Linked DNA regions of Homo sapiens. The protein of the gene in region 1 purifies or fractionates together with the protein of each later gene. This does not show direct contact. Each region holds a gene or a part of one and is shown on either strand. Other genes may lie near its edges.

Region 1 (4,279 bases):
CCAAATGGAATCAAGCTGCTGAAAGTTTTTTTTTTTTTTTTTTTGAGACGGAGTTTCGCTCTTGTTGCCCAGGCTGGGGTGCAATGGCACGATCTCCGTTCATCGCAACCTCCGCCTCCCGGATTCAAGCGATTCTCCTGCCTCAGCCTCCTGAGTAGCTGAGATTACAGGCACGTGCCACGACGCCCAGCTAATTTTGTATTTTTAGTACAGACGGGGTTTCTCCATGTTGGTCAGGCTGATCTTGAACTCCTCCCGACCTCAGGTGATCCACCCGCCTCGGCCTCCCAAAGTGCTGGGATTACAGGCGTGAGCCACCGTGCCCGGCCTTAAAGATTTTTTTAAAACTACATGTTGAAGTCTGTACAAATGGCCAGTTACCCACATTTGCCTATTACCTACACTTCTCAGTATTATACTGTCATTGGCACAGACGATGTCATAGAACACCACAACAGGATCATGCAATAACCTCAGGCAACAAAAATAAATTACATTCATTACACTACTCTTGCCAATCAGGAAAGATTATTGGTTCGCATTAGGAAAAAGATTTTAAAGGACGTTTTAAACAATAAGCCTTTCCGCTTAGGCCTTCGTTAATAGCACAACTGAATTAGAACAGTCCATTCCCCAAAGACTGCACTTAATCATGTCGGTTTTCTGCATCATTTTAATTGCTGTTGACTTTTCATTGACATTTAGCATAGATTTTTGCTCATTTTTGTTTTTTAAAGAACGATACTGAAAGACAAGAAAAATGCTATCAGAGGACTACAAACCTACAGGAGTTGAGTTTCAGTCGTGAAACATTATAATCATTTTCTGTGCTTTCCATATTTCCTTGAATGAGAATGTATTATTTTTATAATAAGAGAAAATTTTTAAAGGAAAAGAAGTTAAAAAAAAAAAAGGCCTCACTTGTAAGGTAGGGTATGGTTTTTTCAAGTCTCAGGCACGTAAATGACAAGGGACTTTTTAAAAAACAAAAAAACACTGCCATTTAAAGCTGACTGGTAGGATCTTCCCTGCTAAATTATTTTGGAAACTTCTTTAAAAATAAATGTAGACCACGAATCATTTACTAAACATATGATTCCAGTACCTCACTACCTTTTCTCTTCGGTTGGCTGTAGTTTAAATTCTAAGGTCTCCTCAAGAAATGACATTTTCACATTTCTTAGGCATCTGTGGTGCCAGAGGAGCAAACCCATCGCACACGCCAGGTCTGCCATGGGGCCCTGGGCGGTGGGGATTTTGGATGTAACGTGTCTAGGCCGAGCCCGCGCCGTGAAAGGCCTACCCTGCCGAAAGCCCGGGCGGCGGGCGCCCACAAGTCAGGGCTCGGTGCGGCGCCGCAGCCAGCTCTGCCCGCGAGCCGAGTCCGGGCTGCTGAGGGGGAGCCGCGCTGGGGGCGGCGGCGTCGGGGCGGGGGCGGGAGCCGGGCGGCAGCTCCAGCGCCCGTGGGGGAGGAGCGGCAGCGGCGGCGGCTGGAGCTGCTGTGGCGACCGACGCGAGGCGGTGGCAGAGGAGACCCACCCCTGTCCACATGGACAGTCGCAAAGGCCTCCGCTGATGCATTCACGCCTGGGCGGGGTGGGCGGACGGCCGTAGCGGCGGCGGCTGCAGAACGAGCTAGGGGCCTGGGGGCGCCTGACGGTCGCAGAGACCTCGCCGCTCCGGCGCGGCGGGTGCGGCCATTTTACGGCCTGGGACGAAGGGAGGCGTGTTTGTGTGCTCGCTTTCATTCTCCTTTCTTGGGAACCCACGGCTGGGGGAAGTTTCTCAGGCAGCCTGGGTGGGCGGTGGATGGGGAGTCGTGGGCCGAGAGGAACCGGGCCCGGGAAGCGCCGTCGTCGTCGTCGCCGGTCGCGTTCCCCCGGAGAGGCCTGAGAAGCTCGGGCCGCGGGCCTCGCTGCCCGCCAGCCCGCGGACAGGCCCGGGCGCGCCTGGCCTGCCTTTGTATAGGCCCGTCTGAACGTGGGAGCGCAGCCCGCCTGACGGCTGAGCCCGAGGCCCGCAACCCTGCGGCGTCTACCCTCCTCCGGCGCGGCCCCTCATCCCGGCGAGCACGGCGGCGGTGTGGGCCATGGATTAAGAAGGAGGCGGCGTGGGAGGAGGAAGATGGCGGCCGGCAAGAGCGGCGGTAGCGCAGGGGAGATTACTTTTCTGGAAGGTACGTCTGTTTCTGCCCTTGACGGGGAGAAGGGAGGGTATACTGGAAAACGTGGCCCCCAGAACCCCGGATATTCAGTTATCTGCGCTGGGTGGGTTTCGGGGGCGGTGAAGTACGAGGGATGAGCGATGACGGGGAGGGAGTGTGCTGCGAGCGCACCTGGTTCGAGTCCGCCTAGGCGAGGGGCTCGGCTGCGAGCCGGTTCGGCCCAGGGGGCGCGGGTGGATTGAGCTACGAGCCAGAGTTGGTGGGCGTCCTTTGAGAGTGCGCGCTGAAGTCTTTGACATTTAAAAAATTTTGGGGTGGTGGCCTAAGGATGAGAGCAGCCAGCATTCACATCTTGTCTGGTGTTCATGAAAAGTTTCAAATTGCTAAGGTTGGGTGCAACTGGGGACCAATCTAAGTAGGGAGGGGACAGACAGTTTCATTGAGGTGTGTTTTATACCCTCTGGTCTGTTTCTCAGAGTTTCAGGCTTGCTTTTGCAGCCAGCCTTCAGATTAGGCCTGGCCTTGTCTGATATTCTTTCGGAATGTGTTTTTATAAAAATATTCTGTAAAATAATTTATCTGGAAAAAGAGTAAGGTTTACAGTGTCAATTTTGGGGCCGTAACTAAAGCTTATTGACACAATTTGAGTTTTACTCACTCGTGAGGGAAAGTTAAACATTTGCTGTAAGTAGACTAAGCCAGCCTCAAGAAAAGCTGTATGTTTTTGTTGGGGAAGGTGGTAATGGGGAACAATATTGATTTTTTTGGCCTATGAATATATAAGGACCCCCAAAATAGAGCTAAATGTTATTGTAATTGTAGCCCAAGAAGTGTTTATATTACTTAATTTGACTATGGGTTCAGTGTTTACACTTTGTTTAGCAAAATGAGTCTCTGCTGCTCAGAGACTCATTCTTCTTGTTAAAAAGAATTAACTACTCTTTGGATAATTTTGCAAAGATGATTTTCATTGCAATATGTCATAAGCTTTACTTCAAAAAATAACTTCTTTTAGTATGTTTCGGAAAGATTACTGAATCAAGAAAGTACAATTTAACTTAAAATTAAGAAAATCCCTAAACAGGTTCTATAGGAGGGTGTTGAGGAATGGGAATGCTTTGGTACTGCTTTGTTAACAGCACCTCGAACAGTGCCTGGAACACAGTAGGTACTCAGTGTTAGTCTAGTGAAAGAATAGTGAATAATAGAGGTAATTTTTCTTAATTCTTCTTACTTGAGTATAGTAAAGTGAAAAAAAAGTCTTACCGTACAAGCCAGCCTTTATCTAAAAGTGATGAGAACTTTACAGGAGATTTCCTAGTAAGAGTAAGAAAAGCTTCTGAGTTTTTCTGGGTTCGTTTCGTATTACCTCCATTCCAGTTTGCGGAATGGGTACCTGTCGAGGCTGAGAGGGTGCAGCTTGTGTTACAGGTAGTGCTATGTGTGTTGTTTTTGTTTTGAAATTGGAAACAAAAGATGGCTTACTCGTGCTTATTATCTTCAGTATGCAGATGATTATACTTTTGTGCTATCCTAGATTTCCAGCTTCTATAGGCCCGATTGAGTTAAAATTCTAATTGGATGAACATAGGGAGGATTAAAACAAGCACAAATAAAGCCACAGATGTAGAGTTAATGTGAGTTTCAAACTACTACTTTTACTTTATTCTAATCTAAGGGTCTTTGAATGTATAGGTATGATAAATTCGAGTTTCACCATGTCTTAAGCATTTTTATAAAGCAAGCAAACGGTAACTTCTTTAGAGCATAAGCATAAGGGTTCTGGGCACGGTGGCGGCACGCCCTTAATCACACACAGCATTTTGGAGGGCCGAGGCAGGCGGATCACTTGAGGCCAGGAATTGGTGACCAGCCTGGCCAACATGGCGAAACCCCACTCTACTAAAAATACAAAAATTAGCCGTGTGTGGTTGGCGCGCGCCTGTAGTCCCAGCTACTGCGGAGGCTGAGGCAGGAGAATCGCTTGGAAACGGGAGGCAGAGGTTGCAGTGATAGCGCCACTGCACTCCAGCCAGGGCAACTGAGCGAGATTCTGTCTCCAAAAAAAAAAAGCATAAGGAAAAGGAACAATTTTAGTTCCTCATAACCAATTTT
Region 2 (4,030 bases), about 52 Mb from region 1:
CTTTAATTTTTCCCACTTTTAAGATAAAGTTTTCCACTGAATTTTTTGAAAGGATTATACATAATTAACTGATTCTCTTGATCTTAATTACTCTTTTTTTCTTTTGCAGCACAAAGAATGAACCAGCAGTGGAAGAGAAAATACTGTAAGCTGGCTGACTGCTGGTGAAGAAAATGCTTTATTTTTGTGGCAGGCATCTGTGGGATCTGTAATAGAAATGTAAGTGTAGCATCATGGTTTTTTTCAGTGCTGCAGTAAATTAAATGGATTGGTTTAACGTGTGGTAAATTGAGTATCTGTCATATGTAGTTTTAATTATATTAAATGAGCATTTTCTTTTGACTTATAGGTGCTTTATTAACAATTTATTTACATTAAGTTATCGTTAATGTAGATTTCCAAGTCTCCTCAAAAGGAAAAGTCTCTATAAGAAAAACTGAAGACACAGGAGTTTGCTCAAAGAATGCTGAAATAGATCTCCAGGTCCTCTGGGTTCTACCTTCTTTTTACATAATAATTTTCTTAAATAACTAAGCTAGGCAAGTAGTACTAGCTTTTGTAAATAAGACAGACTACTAGGTTATAAAAACTCTAGTTACTAAAAACTTGTTTCACTAAATTAAAGGAATTTCTACATAATTGATTTTTTTAATGTAATAATACATCACTGCATTTTATTCATATCACTTCACTCTGATCCCCAGTTTTACTAGTTGTGCTTTCATCATTTATCTTTGCATGATATGCTTTAAAGTGTTACACACTACCTTGGATTTGTCCATATTTAACTTCACCGTATTGATGAAACATTTTTCACTATGAATATATTTCTGTTTTCTAAATTCATATAAGCCCTATGCAACTTGATGTCATTCATGAAAAATGTAGTGAATATTTTATTGACTTTTAATTACAGTGTTTTTCTTATTAGAGCAAGAGTGACCTTGGTAGATGCTATTTCACATTTTCCCAGTTTGACATAAAACTCTTGCTTTCTACTCTTCCAGTATGATACTGGTTACATGTAATGATATGTATTAACAATAATTAATTTATTATTAAAAGTATGACCATATTATTTTTATTCAGTATTGAAAATTTGATAATTGAAAAATGATACTAATAAGCATTTGTCTTTAAAAATATATATTTTATTTAATCCTGTCCATTTATCTATCTGTATACATTTTTTAAAATCTTAATAGGTCAGATAGTCTAGGTGCTGGTCATCAAGGAACTTACTGTGATCCAGTAAATGAGACATGTATGTAATTAACAAACAGTGGAATAGATGCCATATTAAGGTAACAATCAGATGCTATTGAAACTGAACAGAGGAAGAGATTAATTTCATCTGAAGGGTTCAGAATGAACAGAATAAGTTTCACCTTGCCTTCAAAGAATGAGTAGAATTTTAACAGTCAAAGAAAATTAGGAAATATTTTTCAAGCCAAGGGAATGAGGAGGGAAACAGCTGCCTAATCATCAACACATTTTAGAGGAGTCAGGGAACAGTAATATGTGGGAAGGCAGGGTAGGAGAAAGAGACTTCAAAATAAGTGCAGGGAGTGAACATTTATTTAGTACTTACTATATTACCAGATTTTACATTTATTTAACATACAATCAATCTTAATTGATTTTGATACTTAGGGACAGAGTATATTGATCAGTCTTGGAGGAGTTAGGGGACAGTACTTACTAGATGTTGAGGGGTTAGCTTTGTAAACAAGTAGCAGTACCCCATATTGAGCCAGGAGGAATAATGATAAGACAGTAAAGGTAAAGATAGATTTTCAGGATTTATTTTTGACTTACCTAATTTCTCAGTGATACAGGTGTTAGTATATCGATAAACTAGGAGGGAGAAGTTTTATGATAGTCTCTGGGGAATAGGGAAAGAAAGATGTCTTGGCCGAGTAAAAGTTTACTGGGATTGATGGTGTTTAGGAAATCAAAATAGCTATTAAGTGTGTGGGGTTCACAACTTTTGCACCACACAAAAGTGAATTGTATGGTGAAATTTTTGTCACTTAGAGTAACTTGCTTGATTATTCTTTTTTGCGAATGTCTCCCTTGTTGGCTTTTGTGGTGGTGGTCTATCTTTATTTCCTGTTCTTCTCTGACCATTCCTTACACCCCTTCCTGGCTATTTTACCTCACAGATATTGGAGTAATTCAAGATTCTGTGGTTGGCCCTTTTGACTGCTCTCTCTACAGGTTTAATTTGGGCATTTACTCATTTTCATGGCTCCAAGGACCATGTATGTGTTGGTGAGTCACCAGACTTTTTTCAGCTCAGATTTATTCTTGGAGTATCAAACTAGTAAATTCAGCTGTCATCTACCTATCTCCACCTGGAGACCTTAATAAAGTCATTATGTCTGAGACAGAACTCTCCTCAAATTCTGAATTTTGGTGAATGTGTCACCATCCATCAGTAATCAAATGCTTTCATTTCTTTTTCCTTAGCATTCTTCTATTCTATTGTTGGAAACTTACATCAGCAACCTCCCTCTAATTATCTTATACTTGCATTACTACCTGGATATTCTAGTTTCCCTTTCGCCATACCTCCTCCTGCATTACCAAACTTTCCTCCAACCTGCTGTTCAAATGGTCTGGAAGCTACTAAACTGGCTGTTATTTCCTGACGTAAAACCTTTCAGTGAACTCCTCTTGTCTCATTAGTGGTTCATATGTGGACCAGCTTCATAGAAATCCTTAAGCCCCTTGAAATTATATGTAGGATTGTTCCCTTTTTGTGTGTCTGTAATTGGATTCTAAATTCAGACTTTAAAAATCTGATTTTTAATATTTGGAGTTTTTATTGCAAGCTAAAAATTTCTTGAATACTACACATACTAAAGATCTTTTTTGCTTATAATAATTTTGCCTTTCATTTGACTAGTTGTCCAAGAAGTTTCAAGGAAATCTGAGTTCTTGGAGATTTCCACTAACTCTGCCCATACCCCTCTATATTTTGTCTTCTTGAGAAGAAGACTTAGTATTAATAGACTCTTATTAGTCTGGCAGAAATATTTCACATGGTTTATCTATTGGAAGAAGGGGATTTATACTTAAAAGTTGGAATATCACATGAAGAATTCAGTAAAAACGTCTTTGAAAGTAAATGATGTATTATACTTATTAATAGAATTGGACTAACGTCACTCCAAATTTCTGTGTATTAAATTCTTAGTTTAGTAAACTGGAAATAAATTCCCTTTTTCAAAATTAGAATTTTCTGAGACATTTATGAGATAGGGAATACCTCTTTTGATTAGCATTAATACTTGCTCTACACAAAGGGAGGGGAAAAGCTTTCTTATTTACATATTGGTATGATCATCTGCATACATTTAGTCTCCCACCTATTTTAAGATCATTGGAACTGCAAAACAGAGACTGTGTAGGGTAGATTAAAATGGTTTTTTAAAAAGCCTTGAAGTATGTCTTATAGGTAGACTAGCAGTTTGGGGTTACTTTGTGTCTATCTTGTTACACATTTTATCTCTATCTTACTTATTGCATGTGCCTCATTCAGAATTAAATAAGAAATATCACTAAGTTTTTCTGCCCATTTGTTAGTTGGTGATAGACTAACAGTATACTTGATGGGCTAAACAGAATCAGAATTTATAAATTGCTATGGCAAATTGATAGTTAAGAGTGCTTCAGATGAAATAATGACCATTTAGCTGTCTGGTGTCCATTGTTTGCAGATTAACTTTGTCCAACTTCACTTCATTCTGATGATGGAACCAAAATACCTGCACAAACAGGATTGTTTTGCCTTTCCAATTATGTTATTATAATTCATGCCTTCTCCTGGGATGATTGTAATTGCTTTCTTAGTTTTGAAATTATGTGTTTTGGTTTATTCATAAATGCAAGAGTAAGAGTCATGCAAAATATTAATCATATTAAGTAGGGTGGAGGATAATGTTTTTAGGTTGGAAACTTTTTTTTCTGTAGATAAACGAGCTGTATGTGATGGAAAACTGACTTCTTGGGCCCATTTTACTTA

Evidence for each region.
Region 2: the proteins of SENP6 (region 1) and RNF146 purify together in Homo sapiens (affinity purification with western blotting; one study listed by BioGRID). This does not show direct contact.

The regions. Positions count from the first base shown.
Region 1 is NC_000006.12:75,600,401-75,604,679, forward strand, and holds the start of SENP6 (sentrin-specific protease 6), read left to right. Parts: upstream 1-1,479; 5' UTR 1,480-2,124; coding exon 2,125-2,176; intron 2,177-4,279.
Region 2 is NC_000006.12:127,280,122-127,284,151, forward strand, and holds part of RNF146 (E3 ubiquitin-protein ligase RNF146), read left to right. Parts: intron 1-109; 5' UTR 110-217; coding exon 218-219; intron 220-394; exon of another isoform or gene 395-4,030. UniProt on the Homo sapiens protein: E3 ubiquitin-protein ligase that specifically binds poly-ADP-ribosylated (PARsylated) proteins and mediates their ubiquitination and subsequent degradation. May regulate many important biological processes, such as cell survival and DNA damage response.